2 linked regions of the Homo sapiens genome follow. The protein of the gene in region 2 purifies or fractionates together with the protein of the main gene of each other region. This does not show direct contact. Each region holds a gene or a part of one and is shown on either strand. Other genes may lie near its edges. The genes, in order: ADNP and ZMYM2.

What was found.
Region 1: the proteins of ZMYM2 (region 2) and ADNP purify together in Homo sapiens (affinity purification with mass spectrometry; 2 studies listed by BioGRID and IntAct, with this or other methods). This does not show direct contact.

The regions. Positions count from the first base shown.
Region 1 is NC_000020.11:50,919,109-50,931,800, reverse strand, and holds the start of ADNP (activity-dependent neuroprotector homeobox protein), read left to right. Parts: upstream 1-363; 5' UTR 364-975; intron 976-1,463; exon of another isoform or gene 1,464-2,975; 5' UTR 2,976-2,982; coding exon of another isoform or gene 2,983-3,150; intron 3,151-12,544; exon of another isoform or gene 12,545-12,692.
Region 2 is NC_000013.11:19,961,727-19,968,726, reverse strand, and holds part of ZMYM2 (zinc finger MYM-type protein 2), read right to left. Parts: intron 3,508-7,000; coding exon of another isoform or gene 3,446-3,507; intron 439-3,445; exon of another isoform or gene 325-438; intron 1-324. UniProt on the Homo sapiens protein: Involved in the negative regulation of transcription.

The sequences.
Region 1 (12,692 bases), on a different chromosome or scaffold from region 2:
TGCGGCCCGCTGCTTCTGCCTCCGCCGCCGGCGCTGCGGCCAGAGGAAGGCGCCCGCCGAGCACACGGGCCCCGGGAGCGCACTGCGGCCATTATCCGCGGCGCCTCCTAGTGGGTCAATGGCAAATCCGCCTGGTTCTCGCGAGAGCTCCCCCCTCAGTGGGGATTATATAATTTCCCTCAAGCGGGGGTGGGGGTGCTGAGAGCACCCTCCCTCAGGAAAAGTTAGGTGCAAGCAGGGGTGGGAGTAAGAGGAACCCCCCCTGGGGAAAAGGGGGTTAGGGGTGCTGTCCCCACTGCCCCCCCCTATTTAGCTGGACAATGAGTCCTCTTATGCTAATGAGGCACTTACGTCACTTCCGCTCTTTCTCGGCCGCCATTTTGGCTAGGGCAGGTTCGGGGACTCGGTCCGAGGCGCTTGTATTGTCTGCTGAGGGGAGACGCGGGATCAGCCCCCTCCCCCGCCCGTTGCCGCCGCCGCCTCCGCCGGCCCGGTCTCCCCTCCGCCGCCCGCCGGGATCCATGAGCTGAACTCCCGCCCCCCCCCCCCCGGCCGCCGCCATCTTGTGCCCCCTCCCCCTCCCGCAGGCAGCGCTAAGGGGGATTTTGGCGTCTTCTCAGACACAGCTCCCTCTCTCGGTCCCCGCTGCTGAGGAGCGAGAGGAGCGCGGCCGCCGCCGCCCGCGCCGGTGAAGCCGCCTCTCCCACACCCTCCGTCTCCTCCCTCCGCCCCTCCTTTGTCTGCACCGCTCGACGACGCCGCCGCCGCCCGCCGCTCTGCTGCGCCCGCCGCGCCCCCCGGCAGCACCCGCGGCCGCGGCGCGAGCCGGAGTCCGCCGAGCCGGAGCGCGACGAGGCCCCGGGCGCGCCCTCCCCGCTGCCGCCACCGCCGTGCCGCCGCCATCCGCCCGCCGCCGCCGCCGCTGTCCGGCCCCCGAGCACGCCGGCCCCGCGCGCGCCTCGAGGCCGAGTCAAGGTAAGCCCGGCGCCGCCGCGCGCGGACCCGCGGCCCTGCCCTGCCTGGCTTCCCGACCCCGGCCCGCGCGGCCGCCAGTGCAGCCTGGCCCCGGGCGCGGGCGCATTGTTGTTCGCATCGCCGCCCTCCAGCCGCACACACGCTCCTTTGCACACCCCGGCGCCGACGGGTCCCCCGTCCCGGCACGGACCGCTACCCGACTCTGCTCCGGAGGTCCAGGCGCCTCCTCCTGCAGCCCGACCCCCTTCTCCGCCCTGTGAGCCCACCGAGGCCAGCACTCTGCCTGGCCGCCCGGAGCTTTTGCAGCTAAGGGCATCTCCCCCAGCCAGAACCGAGCTTCTCCCATCCTGGAACTAATCCCGTCCGCCCCCCACCCCCAAAAGGAGCCCCCCCACGCACACCCCCATGCCTTGAACCAGCCTTCTGCCAGGTCTGCCCACCCTTACCTGGGGGAGGGGGGACGGGGTTGGGGGGGGCGGGGAGCATGCATGGCATGGAGTGAGTCTTTGCCTCCCCTGTGCAATCCTTCTTCCCCAACCTGCCAGCTTTCCTCTTATCCTGACCACAGTTCACCACCATCCCTTTTCCCCAATCTCAGCTGCCTGGTCAGCACCTCTTTCGAACATTCTGAGCCCCAACTTTGCAGTAAGGTGGTAGAAAATGGAAATCCAGAGAGCTGCAAAAAGATTTTTTTTTAATGTAATGAATGGGGAGTAGTTTTGTGAACACACTCGTATTCACCTCTTCTTTCCTCTGGGAGGCCTGCCTGCCTTCCCCTCCCCCCCAACCTTGATCCCTGTCTGCTGGAAAAGGCGCGATTGCTTCTCTTCCTCTTCTGCCCAAGACCAAGACTCTAGGTCTGATATCCTTTTTAGCCACACACACACACCCCCCACACACGAAGTCTTCTTAATCTTCTTGAATTTACCAGTTACTCTGGACACTTCTTGCCATAACCCCATTTCACAGACAAAGGCTTAGGAGGGAAAAAGAACCAAACTGTTTCTGTGTTTGTCATGTTAATGATGTCCATCCCCACACACCCAGTTCCCATCCCTGATGCTTCTTGTGCCTGTATCTTGAACCTTCAGAATGAAAAAAAAAAAAATCTCTTGGATAGCTTGATACAGTTTCTTTAGAAATCTGCATTGTTGCTTCTGGTTTATGGCCATGGAGAAAATACCAGCCCCCACCCAAAATGCACCGCAGCCAAGTCGGCTAAAGGCGATGAGTGTTGGAGTCAGTAGGGGGCGCATTCTCTGCACTGGGTAAGGCTGCAGAGGGGGGAAGGGCCCCCGAGCTAGAACAGGATGTGCTTCACAGCGCCTTCTACAGACCATGGGAAAATGGGCCCAGCAAGACACACTCGCACTCTTAGTTGGTGAGCTGACAGCAACATGGCGAAGGATTAAGTGAGTCAAGAGCAGTGATTTTACTTCTTTTAAAGAGCCCACCCTGCATTTTAGAAGTTTTCTCCTTTTACTTTTTCAAAACTGTTGGCCCCCAGTCCATATTTGTTCTTGACGAATCACCTTGGCACATCCTTGGTTCGGATTCCCTTCCTCTGGAGTTCTTCCACCTCAAGTTTTGAATGTGTCACCATATCTTTCCTAAGTCTGGTGGTAAAGGAGAAGGTTTGAAACAAAGTAACAGGTTTGGGGGCATAGCTGGTTAACTCCCTTCTTCATAGGCCAAATCTTTCCAATTCTTTGAGAGTTAAAAATCATTCTTGAGAGATGTTGGATTAAGTGTGTAGATGGGTGTCATGATTTGCAAAGCCTTGTTGGTAAACATCAAGCCCATGTTGGGTTCTTCATTGTCGAACTCAAGTGTTGATTGTAAAAATTTCGTTTCCCTCCAAATTTGGACTTGTAATTGCCATTCATTATCTCAGCAGCCAACCACCTTTACAAAAATGTTGATACCAGTCTTCTGTGAGCACCCACCTTCTTAGGGTGTGTTGATTTCCATAGATTTTACTCCTCTTGTTATTTCCATAGGTGTGAGATGCACAATGCGAAACCTAGGCCCCAGCTTTTACACCATGATGCGCAGGGTTGTACTTTTTGTACTGAACTGATAGGTGGCCTAGTGGTTATGCCCTGTACTACCATTTTGAGGATCTGGACTCCGTTTCCTGCCTTGCTCTTTGGACCACATTGTCAATTCACACCGGTGGGTATATTCATTTTGGAGGGTGGGAACTGCAGCAACAGGGAAGCCAGAGACTTCCTTCTCCTTGGTCACCACCAAAACCAACACTTCCAAAATTTCAGCCTAGCCACATTCCTCAAGGAACCGGTTAGAGCTGGTTGCAGTAGTGGGTTCTGAACACTTATTAACATAAGAAATTACTTACAGCTTTTTTAAGAGAAATTTTTACAGATGCTAATATTGTAATCATTTGCATTCTACACCCCTTTGTATAAAGTATAAGTATTCAGTTACTATTACTTTGATAACCCAATCTCTAGAGTTGCTAAGCTTCTAAAAGCCTTAAATGTCTGATGAAAACATGGTTTTCCATGAACTTGTTCTTGCTACCAAAGATTGACAGTGGTTGATGTTTGTGGGTACCTTTAAGACTTTGTATGTTACATAAATACACCAAGATAAGTTTATGGAGAACTGAATGGGTGTATTCTTTGATACCTAGTTAACCAGTTGGTGCTTAACAGGAGAATTTTTCATTGGAGAATTGCTACCAGGTAACATTTTGGTGAGTGAAAAGGAGGCCCTTTGGTACAGGTATTTGACTAGAGACATTGCTTCTACAATTTCTTAGTCATTGTGAAAAATCACATATTTAAATGGGATTATTTAAATTTTTAAATACTGTATAGTATTTGTAGGCAGGTATAGTTTTTATCTTTATTTGGTGTTTTATATGCAGTTATTTAAGTTCTGAAAATGACCATATAATTTGAAGACAACTTATTTGACGGAATGTTTGAAATGAAGTTTGTTGAGGGGCTTTTGTTTGATTTAGCGAATGGGATACAGTGTTGAATGATGTCCTAAGTGGTAACAGCCATTTTCCCTTAAAGGAAAACTTGCTGTGAGCTCTTAGAAAGCATGTATTCTACTGTTTCAAAGGTTTCTTGGTTTTAACACTCAAAAAATAAGGTGAGGCCAGGTGAGGTGGCTTACGCCTGTAATCCCAAAACTTTGGGAGGCTGAGGCAGGAGAATCACTTGAGGCCAGGAGTTCAAGACCAGCTTGGGCAACATAATGAGACCCTGTCTCTACCAAAAAAAAAAAAAAAGTGAAACAATTGGGCTTGAAGACTGGAATTTATAGTAGGTAAACTATATACTTCATTAAAGTATAGTAAAAGGTTCAATTAACTAGAGTGTGGGGAATGGGTATTCTGTTTAACTGAACTTTAAGTAGAAATTCCTTTTTTATCTTGGCCTTTGTTGAAAAATTTCCTGAGACTAGCTTATTAGGAGCTATATATTGAAACTAACCTCTTTGATTTTGGTTTTTATAGTTCCTGTATAGAAAATATAGGAGATTGGGCTGAAAATCTCTTAATGACCCTTGGCCCTTCCAACCTTGGAAGTCATTGATTTTATACATGCCCACTGTGAATTTGCTTTGCTTTGCTTAAGTTTATCTTTTTCTCCTTATACCAGAGTGCAGGAAGAGTTTTAATACTATTTATATTAAAATAAGAACTTCACAACCTTGAACAGATGGTTTTGGTACCACTTGCAAGTAACCAACCAGTAGGCTTTTATCAGGCAAAAATGGCTTATTATTTATATTTGATTATTAAAAGTATAGGTATATAAGGCATACTATGTGAAGTTGTTGCTTTCCTTGTAACTACTTACACGTTTTGAAAGTATTAAAAAGTTAGTATTTTGAAAACTAAAATACTCAAGTTTATTGATTAAATAAGATGATGCTGGCTACAAATTTTATTTTGAAAATTGCAACTTAATAAGGAAGATAAAGCTGTTTTGTAAAGGAGAAAGTAGAGATTGATACTTCATAGGGTAAAAAAAAGAAAAACTTCAGCATTTATGTTTCTTCTTTTGAGAATCATATATAAGTAACAAAACTGCATAAATTGCAATAGACCTAGGTCACTTGATTTCACAATTGGGTGTGTGTATGTATGTACACATACATATAAAATATATGTAGGTTTTCTAGAGCTGGAAATGATTGTCATATTATTAAATACAGATGAAAAGTTCAAGTATCACGTGTAGTTTGGGGAAAGTACATTTAGTTTTGAGATGTAGTTTGGGGACAATACATCTAAGTGTAGTAAAAAAATACCAGAATTAAACTTTATGTATGTATTTTTTCCAAGTAACCTATTTAAATCTTAGTGAAATAAAGATTTTTAAAGTAATATGAAAGAAAAAAATAGGAAGTTTTTATTTTACAACATTAGAAGCATTATTGTGGTTTACACCAAAGTACCCATGACTGTTGTGTAAATAAGCTACTTGTTCAACCTGGAGTTCCAAAGGAGTTTTTAAAAGAGCATCATAAAGTCAGTTATGTCTTACATAAGGTAAAATAACTTTCAGTGGGAGTTTAACCTTCATTCTCTTGACTGAGAGGCATGTACATTAAGAGAAACATTGCTCCCCTATGTGTAAATAATTTAATTATAGTTGGATTCACAGAGCTTGACTTGTTATTAGCATCGTATAAACTTAAAGTTTTTCCTCCCCTAGTTTTTGTGTGTTGTTTGTTTGTTTGTTTGAGACAGTCTTGCTCTGTCTCCCAGGCTGGGGTGCGGTGGCCCAATGTCGGCTCACTGCAACCTCTGCTTCCCGGGTTCGAGTGATTTTCCTGCCTCAGCCTCTGAGTGGTTGGGATTACAGGTGCCTGCCACAACGCTTGGTTAATTTTTGTATTTTTAGTAGAGATGGGATTTCGCCATGTTGGCCAAGCTGGTCTTGAACTGCTGACCTCAGGTGATCCGCCTGCCTTGGCCTCCCCAGGTGCTGGGATTATAGGCGTGAGCCACCGCTCCCAGCCCCTCTCCTAGTTTTGTAAGAGCTTGTGATAGTAACTGGAGTAAATGCCGTATTTTGCTGATGTACCTCACTGCCAGTTAACACCTTCTATGTTGTTAGTTTGGAAACTCGGTGTTTGAAACTAGTATAAACCAAAGCCCCATGCTAATTAACTGAATTGATACTTTGAATGTAAAAGCTGTTTCTTGTTTTTACTTTGGCACTTTCCACCTTGATTGTTGAGATACTTTATTTGATAAACCGTCCATGCTTTGCCCATTGTGGGTGGCCATTGTGATTTCATGGTTTTTTGTTGTTTGTCTGATCCTGTTTATTAGAAAGTGAGGAGAGGATGATTATGTTCCTTCATCCTCTCAGTGTCTTAGTACTCCCTACACCTGCGTTATGTTATGACCTACCTTTGCGATCTGCCAGTTTTGGGGTCAGCTTAAGTGAGAATTCATATTCTGCTTCACTGGAATGAGAAGGCTCTCCTCACATATTATCATGCTTCTCAAGTTGGTATATATGAGCCAACTTGATTATGTAGTGTGTGTGTGTGTGTGTGTGTGTGTGTATAGGAAGTCACAGATAAAAATTGAGCCAACTGTGGAAAGTGACAGTTTTGATTGCAGGGCACACGTTTTTTTATTCTAATCAATGAAAAATGCAAAATTCATATTACTGTTTTTAGTCCTGGGTCCTGTCATCTCTGTGTATTAATTCAGTCCTCTGCCTTAAGGAGTTCCTTGAGATTTCACTCACAAGCTTTGGTATTATTGATCCCTACCTTGGTTCCAAGACAGCAGCTAGAGAAAGCCTGGAACCTCTCAAGAATTTCAGCAGTGTTCTGGAAATAAAGATTTAGAAAATAAGAGGAAAGCATAGACAACGTTGGATGGAGTTTACAAAGGGAAGCCTGCTCTGAATATATGCCACAGTTTTAGATTTAAGTTAAAGATTTAATTTAAAAGCATACACGTAATCTAAAAGAGTCATGCATTATTTGACCAGCTGTTAGAATTAAAAATGAATCTGCATATCCTAATACCCTCTTCAGTAAGGGTATAGATTTGTAATTGAGTCACTTAGCTGTGGGTTGTGTTTATATGTCACTTCTCATGTGACTGTGATGACTTTAATAAGGATGTGCTGCTTAAGTGTAAAGGCCCCCTTGCTGGCCTTTATGGTATTATAGTATTGGTGGCTTGTCTGTTTTATTTTCCAAGCACTTTATAAACTATTCCCAATTTTCTCAGGACTATCCTTGTTTCACAAGTAGGGAAATCAAGGCACTACCACATACAATGATGAAATGAGCCACAGAGTATGTCTGGGCTGGTTCCCAGGCCTGTGCTTGCAACACAGGCCTTTATGGTGCTCTTGTAAGCTGTTTGGCTAATGGGGGCTCACATGAATGCTTCCCATTTCACAGTGAGGTTTTATGCTTCCATGTGAGCTTAAACCCAAGGATTCCAATGGCGTCTACATGTAAAGAAGCTAGCCACACCCCCAGCAGGGAGAGTATGGGTGTAAATTGTGCAGGTGGCAGTTAATTGGAGTAGCATATTTCTGCTGGGAAGTTAACTGTATAAGAATCTAAAAAGAAACGTTGTTTATGTTCCCTTTTCTTTTCCCAGTTTTTTAGTTTAAGACAGTCAGTCTGTCCTGAGCAGTTACTTTTTTCTTAGATAATTGCTGGCTTTTACCCTTTCTTTTTCTGAATCCTTCATGCTCCATTTAAGAGCTTGTGGAAACCTGTGCTTCAGTTGACAATCTGTAAAGCTCTGCTCTTCTGGTGGAAGCTCATGACCTGAGAACCTTTTGAGTGGTCTCTTTTGAGAAACTCCTGTCTAGTGGAAATATGGTGGAATTTATTAAAATTTTCAATTCGAATTATAAATTTAGGTTGACAGAATCCTTGCTCTTGTGAAAGAAGTGAGCTGAGACTGGGAGTATCCAAATGCAAGAAGTGCTCAGAATCCTGCTTCAAGATCAGTTACACTTAAAAACAGCAACAAGAGGATGGGTGCGGTGGCTTACATCTGTAATCCCAGCACTTTGGGAAGCCAAGGCTGGCGGGTCACCTGAGGTCAGGAGTTCAAGACCAGCCTGGCCAACATGGTGAAACCCCATCTCTACTAAAAATACAAAAGTTATCCTGGTGTGGTGGCACTCACATGTAGTCTCAGCTACTTGGGAGGCTGAGGCAGGAGAATCACTTGAACCTGGGAGGCGGAGGTTGCAGTGAGCCAAGATGGCACCACTGCACTCTAGCCTGGGTGACAGAGTGAGACTCAGTCTCAAAAAAAAATAAAAATAAAAAACAGCAACCAAAAAAAATGCAAATAAAACTTCTCTGAGGAAAGTGTGAAAACTTGAGCCATCAAGTGGCAAAACCTGGTACAAGAACGCTTTTGAAAAGCTACCTTCGGTGAAGCCTTGATCCTGGGAAATGGCTTCGAAAAACTTGAGAACATAGTTTAAATATTCTGTTACTCAAGAATAGTGAAAGAAATATATTTCCTATTGTGGGAAATTATTTCTGAGTAGTTTCGGTAGAGCATAAAAATGTATTATTAGGGGATCAAAATAACGTTTTATGTCATTTAGATACAAAGACTTGGCATGCTTCTGAAATAATTTATAAATGGACATATCTGCGTGTCCTCTTGTGGTGTTGTGATACATACTGGTTTTCATCCACCACGGTTCCTGGCTCATAACACCCATAACCCCATTACCGTGTTTTGTTATAATATAGGGTACGTTAGGTCTCAGAAAATAATCTCTGATCTTCTCCTGCTCTCCTTACACGTGTCCCAAGGCAAGATTCTGATCTTTACCCAGCTTTCTGATTGTAGGTCTTGAGATCCTCTCTAGAGAGAGGGTGTTGGCCCTATACCCCGGGGAAGGGAAGTAAGGTTTCCTATATGAAGCTTTTATAAAAACCCAGGAGGGCCAGGCGCGGTGGCTCACGCCTGTAATCCCAGCATTTTGGGAGGCTGGGGGCGAGCAAATCACAAGTTTAGGAGTTTGAGACCAGCCTGGCCATCGTGGTGAAACCCCATCTCTACTAAAAATACAAAAAAAATTAGCTGGGTTTAGTGGTGGGGGCCTATAATCCCAGCTACTCAGGAGGCTGAGGCTGGAGAATTGCTCAAACCCGGGAGGCAGAGGTTACAGTGAGGCGAGATTGCACCACTGCACTCCAGCCTGGGGGACAGAGTGAGATTCTGTCTTTAAAAAAAAAAAAAAAAAACGCAGGAGGACTGGGTTCAGAGAGCTTCCAGATAGTTGAACACACCTGGAGGGTGGCGCCCCCAGAGAGGGTATGGAAGCCCAGTGCCCTTACGCATTTCTTTATCTGTACTTTTTATAATAAACCGGTAAACATAAGTGTTTCCCCAAGTTTTGTGAGATGCTCCAGCAAATTAATAGAACTCAAGGAGGGGGTCTTGGGAACCCCAGCTTGAAGTGTCAGTCAGAAGTTCTGGAGGCCCAGACTTACAGTTGGAGTCTGAAGAAGGAGAGAGCAGTTTTGGGGACTGAGCCCCCATCTTGTGGAATATGACACTGTATCCAGGTAGACAGTGTCAGAACCAAATTAGAGGATACTCAGCTGGTGTCCGCTGCTTGGGAAAAAACCCTACACGTTTGGTCACAGAAGACAACTTCACGACTTCTGTGTGGTGTGAGGGCAGAGGAAAAACAAAGTTTGAGAGTTTTCCCCTAAAGCACCCCTTAAGGGCTACTTGTGAATTATTTCCCTTTTTCACATTGATCTTAAGCCAGATTGTCCACTTACAGCGACAGCAAGTGGCTGTATGCCTGTGGAGTTCTTATGTAGGCAGTGGAGTGCTAGAATCACTCTTTATGCTGTGTCCCTGCCTTGCTGCAATACCTGTTTAGAGTGAAGTAAACTGGGAAGTGCTCCTCACCTCACACTCTCCCTAAATCTAAATTGGTATATTATAAAGTATCCTCAGTCTGTTTTTCTTGTTTAAGTACCGAGGCATCTTCCCCCGCTTTCAAATACAATTTTAGGTGAACTCTTAAATTGATGAAGGGTCGGGGGGCCAGACCTCTGGCTGCCCAGCTTTCACCTTGTCCCTCAGGCATCATCTTCCCTCTGTTTGTATACATATCTTAAACTCTTAGAGGAGTTCAGCCTGAAAACAACTGGTTCTACTGGTGTACTGGAAATTCTGGTGGTCACTGCTAGAATTCTTGCCTGAAATCTGAATACGGAAAGTATCAGGATAAGCAGCAACACAGTAGCAGTTTTCCAGTTGTGGGCACCAGTCTTGTAGTCTGAAAATCTTCCTAAAAGACCAGTGACTCCACATATTTTTTAAAACTTAAGATACGCAAAATCTAGATGACACCTTTATGTTTCTACATAACTGTAAGTCACCTGGGTTTATTTAAGATAGTTGCAGATGTTCAGTTGCCTAAATATTTTAAGTGTCACTGAGCTTGTTAAGAATATGCAAACCTGAGTATGAATGGCTCACACAGATGTAAAATATTGTATAAAAACACTACTGTGCATGATGCATTGTAATGTGTACAGGAACAGATGTTGTTATGGCAACCACATCTGATTCTCAGTCATAATAGTTTGAGCTTTTTGGAGAGGTTATGCCCTGGTGTGAACTCAGAATTTTGAAAGTGATTATTTTAGTATCTCATCTGGTTTAAGGTGATAATGGTAACTGACTTAAGCATTAACTTGCATCATCTCATTTAATCCTTCTGCCATTAAAACAATGAGATAGTGTCCTTCTGCTTATGCCATAAGAAAACAGACCTCTAGAGGTTAAATAACATGTGTAGGATCACAAAGCTTGTAAGTGGCAGAGCAAGGATTTAAATACAGATCTGTCTAACTGTAGGGTGGACCACTGCATCTTTATTTTCTAGCAAAGAAAAGCTTTACTGTGCTATGTCACCCTACCTCTTGTTAAGGAGGTTTGAAGTTATAAGGTACAAATTTTTTACATATGGCTGATAGGTAAGTTTTTGTCCAGGAAAATAGTATTATTAGCACAAATTTTGACTTAGGCTATAAGCTTCACCTGTGAACCTTTTCTTTTCCCCTCGTTTTACTCTTACCCCAGTATCCTATTATCTCATACCTAAGGCAGTGATGGTTTCTCAGACCTCTTAGATTGAGAAGATGTGGCATGGGTGTAAGGTCCCTCAGGTAATTCTGAGGGTTGGGTAGGTCTGGTATCTACTCTTTTACTTAATTGACTTCCTCCAGGCTTTTTTTTTTTTTTTAATGGAGTCCAGGCTGGAGTGCAGTGGCGCGATCTCAACCTCTGCCTCCTGGGCGCAAGAAATTCTCCTGCCTCAGCCTCCCGAGTAGCTGGGATTACAGGCGCTGGCCACCACACCGAGCTCATGTTTGTATTTTTAGTAGAGATGGGTTTCACCATGTTGGTCAGGCTTGTCTCAAACTCCTGACCTCAAGTGATCTGTCTGCCTTGGCCTCCCAAAGTGCTGGGATTGCAGGCATGAGCCACTGCTTTCTTTTTCTTTCTTTCTTTCTTTTTTTTTTTTTTTTTTTTTTGGAGGTGGAATCTCGCTCTGTTGCCCAGGCTGGAGTGCAGTGACTGCAACCTCCGCCTCCCGGATTCAAGCAATTTTTCTGCCTCAGCGTCCTGAGTAGCTGGGATTACAGGCGCACACCACCACGCCCGGCTAATTTTTGTATTTTTAGTAGAGATGGGGTTTCACCATATTCGCCAGGCTGGTCTCGAGCTCCTGACTTCGTGATCTGCCCATCTTGGCCTCCCAAAGTGCTGGGATTTCAGGCATGAGCCACCACACCCGGCCTGGATTAATCCTCTTAAAGTGCCATTAGAATCATGTCCCTTCTGTACTTCGTTACCTGCAGCATCTCCTCGGTGCCTACCAGACATGGCAGCAGACTCCAGCTTCACATTCAAGATCCCCATCCTATCCTCACCCTGCCTTTCCAATCATGTCGTTCCTTGTTACTCAGAAGCTTGACATAGCAACCATTCTGACTCAGTGGAGTTGAGCAAGAAGTTCCTAGAACACCTTGCTTTCCGGCCTCTGGAACTGCGCCAGAAGTCTTTTGCAGTAAATGCAGATTCTTCACCTAAGTTAATGGCCCCAACTCAGCAGCTGTTGCCACCCTCCCTGCTGAGAATGAACTAAACATGAAGCCTCCTAGGATTTAGTTTGTGACACATCTGATACATCGCCTCTTTTACTGCAAATATTTATTGGATGTCATATCTGTAAGCCTTTTCTAGGCAGAGATTCATTCATTCTGTCTGAATTTATTGAGTGCCTGCTTTGTTCTAGTCATTGACATAGATGATAGAGATACAGCAGGGAAAAAAACCAAAGTTCCAGGGTCTCCCTTTGTAACGCAGGCTGGAGTATAGTGGCACCATCATAGCTCACTGCAACTCAAGCCATTCTCCCACCTCAGCCTCCCAAGTAGCTGGGACTATAGGCATGCACCATCACACCTGGCTTTTTACATATATATATATATATATATATATACACTTAAATATATGTATTTTTTCAGGCTGGTCTTGAACTCTTGGGCTCAAGCAATCCTCCCACCTCAGCCTTCCAAAGTGCTGGGAGCTGTGAGCTACACCTGTGAGATGGCACCCTTGTCCTGCTGCATATTTTAAGAGTTCTGTTTAGTCCATCAATTGAGGTCAGGAAAATGAACGTGCT
Region 2 (7,000 bases):
TTTAGGAAAAATTAATCTGGCTACAATGGAGTCAAGAATAGGAAGAAACTGCCTTGTAAATAATTCCGTTTTCTAACAGACTAAGGTGAAAGTTAAAAGCATAGTAAGAGCTAAAGATGACAGTAAAGGACACTTAAAGGTCTCAACATTAGTCTAGTGAGGGGAGGTCTGGTGCGGTGGCTCACGCCTGTAATCCCAGCACTTTGGGAGGCCAAGGTGGGCAGATCACCTGAGGTCAGGAGTTCGAGACCAGCCTAGCTAACATGGTTAAACCCCATTTCTACTAAAAATACAAAAAAATTAGCCAGGGACAGTGGCGCGCACCTGTAATCCCAGTGCACCTGTAGTCCCAGCTACTCGGGAGGTTGAGGCAGGAGAATCGCTTGAACCCGGGAGGCGGAGGTTGCAGTGGACCGAGATCACACCATTGCGCTCCAGCTTGAGCAAGAAGAGCAAAACTCTGGCTCAAAAAAAGGAAAGTCTAGCGAGGGGAAGTGAAGGAGGTGGTCATAACTATGAGACCACATTAAGCCCCAGAAGCAAAAATTTTAAATGTTACAGAATTAAGACAAAAAGAAGCAGTTAAAAGATTTGGCAATTAGGTCACTAGCGACCTCAGAAGAGATTTGTTATAGTGTTGACAGTGCAGATCAGACAGTGGATTTCTTTCTAAAAGTATAGGGAAAAGAAGAAATCGTTAGAAAAAGATGCAGAGATTCTGGAGGATAAAGCATTTTTATCTCGATGGAGGATAAAGCACTGCAGACTAATGAAAAAGCCAGAAGAGGGAAGTCGGTGAAGAGAAACATAGAAATTCTTCTAGTCATTACCAGATAAGCACACACTAAGTTTACCATACCAGGTGGTGGCAGCAAATTCATTATGTTTGGTCCATATAAACAGACAGTTTAAGAATTGCAGCTGCTATTAACTGAGCACCTACTATTGGCCAGCTGCATACCCTGTATTATTTTTAGTCCTCACCTCAACAATCTCAGGAAACCAGGCATTACCATACTCATTTGTTAACTGACTGAACTACAGCTCAGATGTTACATGACTTGCCTGATATCGCAAACTGGTAAATACTGGAGCAAAATTGTTTTTAATAGTTATATTAAAGCATAATGTACGTGTAGTAAAATTTACTTATTTTAAGTGAAAGATTTGATAAATGTATTAAATGTATATACTTCTGCAACAATCACCACAATCCAGTTTTATATAACACTCTATCACCCCAAAACTCCCTTCATGAGCAGGGCAGATTTAAGCCTGAATCTGTATGACTCCAACTCATGTCATGCTACAATGAGAAAAATGGCTTTTTTTGGCAGAAAATCTGCAAAATTAAGTCGTTACCCTTCCAATCTTCTCTTAGTACTCACTAGTTCCCTTTCCATGTGAGGCCCTCATATATCTCTAGAACCATACTCACATATCATGATCTCACCAAATTCACGAGTTTACTGTAATTTGGAAACATACCCCCTAAAAGGACAGTATAATCAGACTTTTATATAGGATGCTATTACAGATACTGTGCTCTTTTTTTAAAAAAAGCAAAAGGAGTTAGGAAAAGGAAAGACAAATGAACAGGTAAGTCCAGGAGGAAGACTGAATGAAAACAGAAGAGTAAGGTCCTTGAAAAAGGAAAATGTGATATACAAATAAAGAAAACATGAAATAACAGAAGTCAGGAGTCTGTGTCATGGAAGAGAGACTAACTGGAACAGAAGCTTCTCTTCCATAAGCAATGTAAAACCGTACAGAGACATAGGATGGAATGACTTCCTAGGCAGGAGTTAACACTTATTTGGCTAAGAAACAGGACTATACAATAATAAGACAGACAAAAATCAAAATAAAGTGAGACAATATTCATAGTAAAGTTATAAAGCTAAAACTTGTTAAATTTTATAATCATGATTTTCCTATAACTAATTAAAACAAGTGCAAATTTTTCTTTAGGTAAAAAAACAAGCAGGCTGGGCGCGGTGGCTCACGACCATAATCCCAGCACTTTGGGAGGCCAAGGCAGGCAGATCACCTGAGGTCAGGAGTTCAAGACCAGGCTGACCAACATGGAGAAACCCCGTCTATACTAAAAATACAAAATCAGCCCGGCGTGGTGGCACATGCCTGTAATCCCAGCTACGCAGGAGAAACGCTTGAAACCAGGAGGTAGGGGCTGCGGTGAGCCCTGATCACACCATTGCACTCCAACCTAGGCAACAAGAGCAAAACTCTGTATCCAAAAAAAAAAAAAGAATTATAGACATATAAGAATTCAGGCCTGGTGCAGTGGTTCACATCTGTAATCCCAGCACTTTGGGAGGCTTAGGCAGGTAGATAACCTGAGGTCGGGAGTTCAAGACCAGCCTCACCAACATGTAGAAACCCCATCTCTACTAAAAATACAAAATTAGCCAGGCGTGGCGGCTCATGCCTGCAATCCAAGCTACTCAGGAGGCTGAGGCAGGAGAATCACTTGAACCCGGGAGGCGGAGGTTGCGTTGAGCCGAGATTGCACCATTGCACTCCAGCCTGGGCAACAAGAGAGAAACTCTGTCTCAAAACAAAACAAAACAAAACAAAAACAAAAAAAAAAACAAGCAAATATAGAATTATAAATATATAAGAATTCAGGCCTGGTGCGGTGGCTCACACCTGTAATCCCAGCACTTTGGGAGGCCCAGGCAGGTGGATCACCTGAGTTCAGGAGTTCAAAACCAGCTGGCCAACACGGTGAAACCCTGTCTCTATTAAAAATACAAAAATTAGCCAGGTGTGGTGGTGCACACTTGTAATCCCAGCTACACAGGAGGCTGAGGCAGGAGAATTGCTTCAAGTTGAACCCAGGAGGCGGAGGTTGCAGTGAGCTGAGATCATGCCATTGCACTCTGGTCTAGGCAACACAGCAAGACTCCGTCTCAAAAAAAAAAAAAAAAAAAAGAATTCAGATACCATATCAGGGCCAGAAATAATTAAAATGATTAAAATAAGATATGACAAGCCTGGAACGAAAAAAAGTACAAATCTAAACAGGAGGATAAAATAAAATTTTCATTTAACTTATATTTTCACTTCCACCCAAACCTTTCCTTAGTTCTATAGAACTAGAAACACAATTCACTAAGTCTAGATGAAATGCTCTTCCAAGCAGAGCCAAAGAAACTGCTAGCCCATAATTAACAGAACACATATTTTATGACTATCTAATATATAACAGGTGTTGTAATATCCAATTTGTTAAATCAGTCCCCTGATTATTACCCTGAACACTCTGTCTAGTCCAACTTGATATTCCAAGAAACACTATTCTTCCTAGGAAAAAGACATACCTCTTTGAAATGAATGATTATAAAACTGTTCCAGTATTAGAAGAGAAGTCATTTTTTAATGTTAAGTAACAAAACCCAAAAATTTAGTTGTCAATTCTTACACTAGTAAGTCCAGAGATGGTATCCAGGTGACTACGGCAGAGAGTAATATACACATGTATGGCTATAAAGTAAAAAGAATTTGTCTCACTGTATTATAGTCACATTTTACAAACATTATTCTGTCTGCAACTTCTAACTGTGCATCCCAATGTTACTTAGAATAGCTATGTAAGTATTTTTCTTTTTTTTTTTTTATTATACTTTAAGTTTTAGGGTACATGTGCACATTGTGCAGGTTAGTTACATATGTATACATGTGCCATGCTGGTGCGCTGCACCCACTAACTTAAGTATTTTTCTTATCCAACCTAAATGCATGGTTAGAGACAAATAAGTTTAATGCAAGAGTTTTAACAGATCTTTCCCAACATTTGCATATGAAGTTGCAACAATTAGTTATATTCCTAGCAAATTTATCCTGATTACAATTTAACATTAACTTGTAATATAAAAAAACATTTTTATGGATAAATTTTTAAAAACTCTTTAGACTAACTTATAAATTCACAAAAACTAATCTGACCTTGAAATTCACTAGGAACACTTAGAGAGAAAAAAAAAAATCTGGAACCCTCTGAAAAAGAGAGAAAAACCTAATCCTTGGCAGCCTACTGACATTAAAGAGAACGGTCTAAATTAAGAATAAACAAAAACAAGATGATAACTTATACTAATAAAACATAAACGTGCAAAAGTTTTTAAAAACCCAACCTACTGGCTGGGCATGGTGGCTCACGCCTGAAATCCCAACACTTTGGGAGGCCAAGGTGGGAAGATCGCTTGAGTCCAGCAGTTTGAGAGCAGTGTGGACAACAAAGTGGGTCCCTGTCTCTACAAAAAACCGACCTATTAAACATGCATTATCTATTTCTGTGAATAATCACTTTATTTTTTTTTTTATTTTTGAGACGGTCTCTCACTCTATTGCCCAGGCTGGAGTGCAGTGGTGCAATCTTGGCTAACTGCAACCTCCACCTCCCAGTTTCAGGTGATTCTCCTACCTCAGCCTCCTGAGTAGCTGGCATGACGGGTGCCTACCACCATGCCTGACTAATCTTTGTATTTTAGTAGAGACAGGGTTTCACCACATTGGCCAGGCTGGTCTCGAACTCTTGACCTCAGGTGATCCACCCGCCTCAGTCTCCCAAAGCTAAGATTACAGGCGTGAGCCACTGAGCCCGGCCAACCAGTTTACTCTTATGTCATTTCTTGAAATAGCAAACATGAATATTTACAGAACATTAATCAAATCAGTAAAACTAAAACCCAACAGCTATACCCTTCTTTCAAATTAAAGAGCATTGATTTTTCTTAAAATTTATTACTTCTAATTTTCAATGGACTGTTATAAAGTTAAAAATAAAACAGGACTAAGAACAAATCCCAAAGTCATACTAATCAAGTGATTTTGCTAACCTCTCTGCACATCTTTTTAAACTCTTAAAAAGAGTTTAAAAAATGTTTACGAAAATTCATTCTGCAGCTCCACAGAAGTGCTTCAAGTATTGTGTAAAGCTTGATCCAAAAAAAATTAATATATCTTAAATATGCACAAAAACAACAGATATGTTCAAATGTGTTATAATCCAAATTTTAACACATTTTAAAATGACCAACTCATCTTGTTGCCAAGCATTTGGTGATGACCATAAAGACCCTTTTCATATGTCTATTTTAGTAAGAGACATCAAAGACTACGAAGTGATTTGTTTAAAAAACCAGGTTGTAAATATAAAAATGTGCAACTCCAACTACATAAAAAAAAAAATTCTTGCTGGTATACAACCAAAATAAAATATGAAAATAAGCTGCAACTGTTACTCAGATTGCTGCACTCAAATTCATGGATTTATCCAACAGCAATTTTTCTCATTGACAACTTTGTAAGTGTTATATATTGGAGACCTGCATTAGAACTTTTTGATCTGAATACTTCAAAAGTCCTGTTCACTTCTATGCTTTGACAGGAATATAAGAAAATTAACCAACTGAAGTGTTTTTAAAGGAGCAAAACGCAGGGAGTCAAAGCAATTTATTTCTTCCCTAAATTGAAATGCCCTACATAAAATACTATTTGTGAATCCAATGAGAGAAAACACTTGAGTTTGGGCTCTCCTTGCATTCGCTAAAAAAATCACATGCAGGCCGGCACGGTGGCTCACGCCTGTAATCTCAGCACTCTGGAAGGTTGAGGCGGGCAGATCACCGGAGCTCAGGAGTTCGAGACCAGTCTGGCCAACATGGTGAAACCTTGTCTCTACTAAAAATCCCCATCTCTACTAAAAATACAAAACTAGCCAGGTGTAGTGGCACGTGCCTGTAGTCCCAGCTACTTGGGAAGCTGAGGCAGGAGAATGCTTGAACCCTGGAGGCGGAGGCTGCAGTGAGCAGACATCACGCCACTGCACTCCAGCCTGGATGACAGAGACTCTGTCTCAAAAAAAAAAAAAAAAAAATGGCTGGGCAAGGTGGCTTACGCCTGTAATCTCAGCACTTTGGGAGGCTGAGGCAGGCGAATAACTTGAGGCCAGGAGTTCGAGATCAGCCTGACCAACATGGTGAAATCCTGTTTCTACTAAAAATACAAAATTGGTCAGGCACAGTGGCGCATGCCTGTAATCCCAACTACTTGGGAGGCTGAGGCAGGAGAATCACTTGAACCCAGGAGGCAGAGGTTGCAGTGAGCCAAGATCACATCACTGCACTCCAGCCTGGGCAACAAGAGTGAAACTCCATCTCAAAAAAAAAAAAAAAAAAAAAAAAAATATATATATATATATATATCCCATGCAATTTGAATAGCCCAGTCTTCTCATAATCAACGACATTTATTATGATATATATTAATAATATTGTCAAATGGTATAGAGACATATTAATGCTAGAGAGACAGGAAATATAACAATTCTAATTATACCATGCCTTTTGACACCAGGGTTTCAGCATTTCATACCCATTCTTCCCATCACATTAATACCAGAGCATCTGACTGAAGGTAAAGATTCACTTTGTCTCAAATGCATTAATATTAAATTTGTACACTTCTGTACCTCAAACAAGGGCAAAATACAATAAAACTGAAAAAATAAAAACTGTTGTTCAAAGATAATATAAGCTCTATATCCACACAGAAGTTAAAAATGTTCATATGTCAGCATATATGTCATACTTGAGTGATTCAGGATTGTCTCACCACATGAGATACAAAAGCCCAGCCCATGGAAAAGTAGGGACCACTTTATATCTTCCTCCCAACAATTTAAAAGGATAGGTGGGAGGGAACAGATATTAGAAAGGATGCACTAAAGAAATATGCCATAAATATGCAAAGTATTTTTAACTGTCAAAATACTTTGTAAATGGATCTAAAAGCATTTACATATGTTCCTACTGTATAATAAAAGTACTTATTTAGTCAAGGCCAATTAAAAATCATCAGGTTATCTTCATCTTACTGTCTAGCACATAGCAGCATCACTAGTTGCTGTTTTTAAGTAAAGAAATGTTCAACTCTAAGCTAAATCGTTAAGCAAAACAAGAACCATTCTGGTATT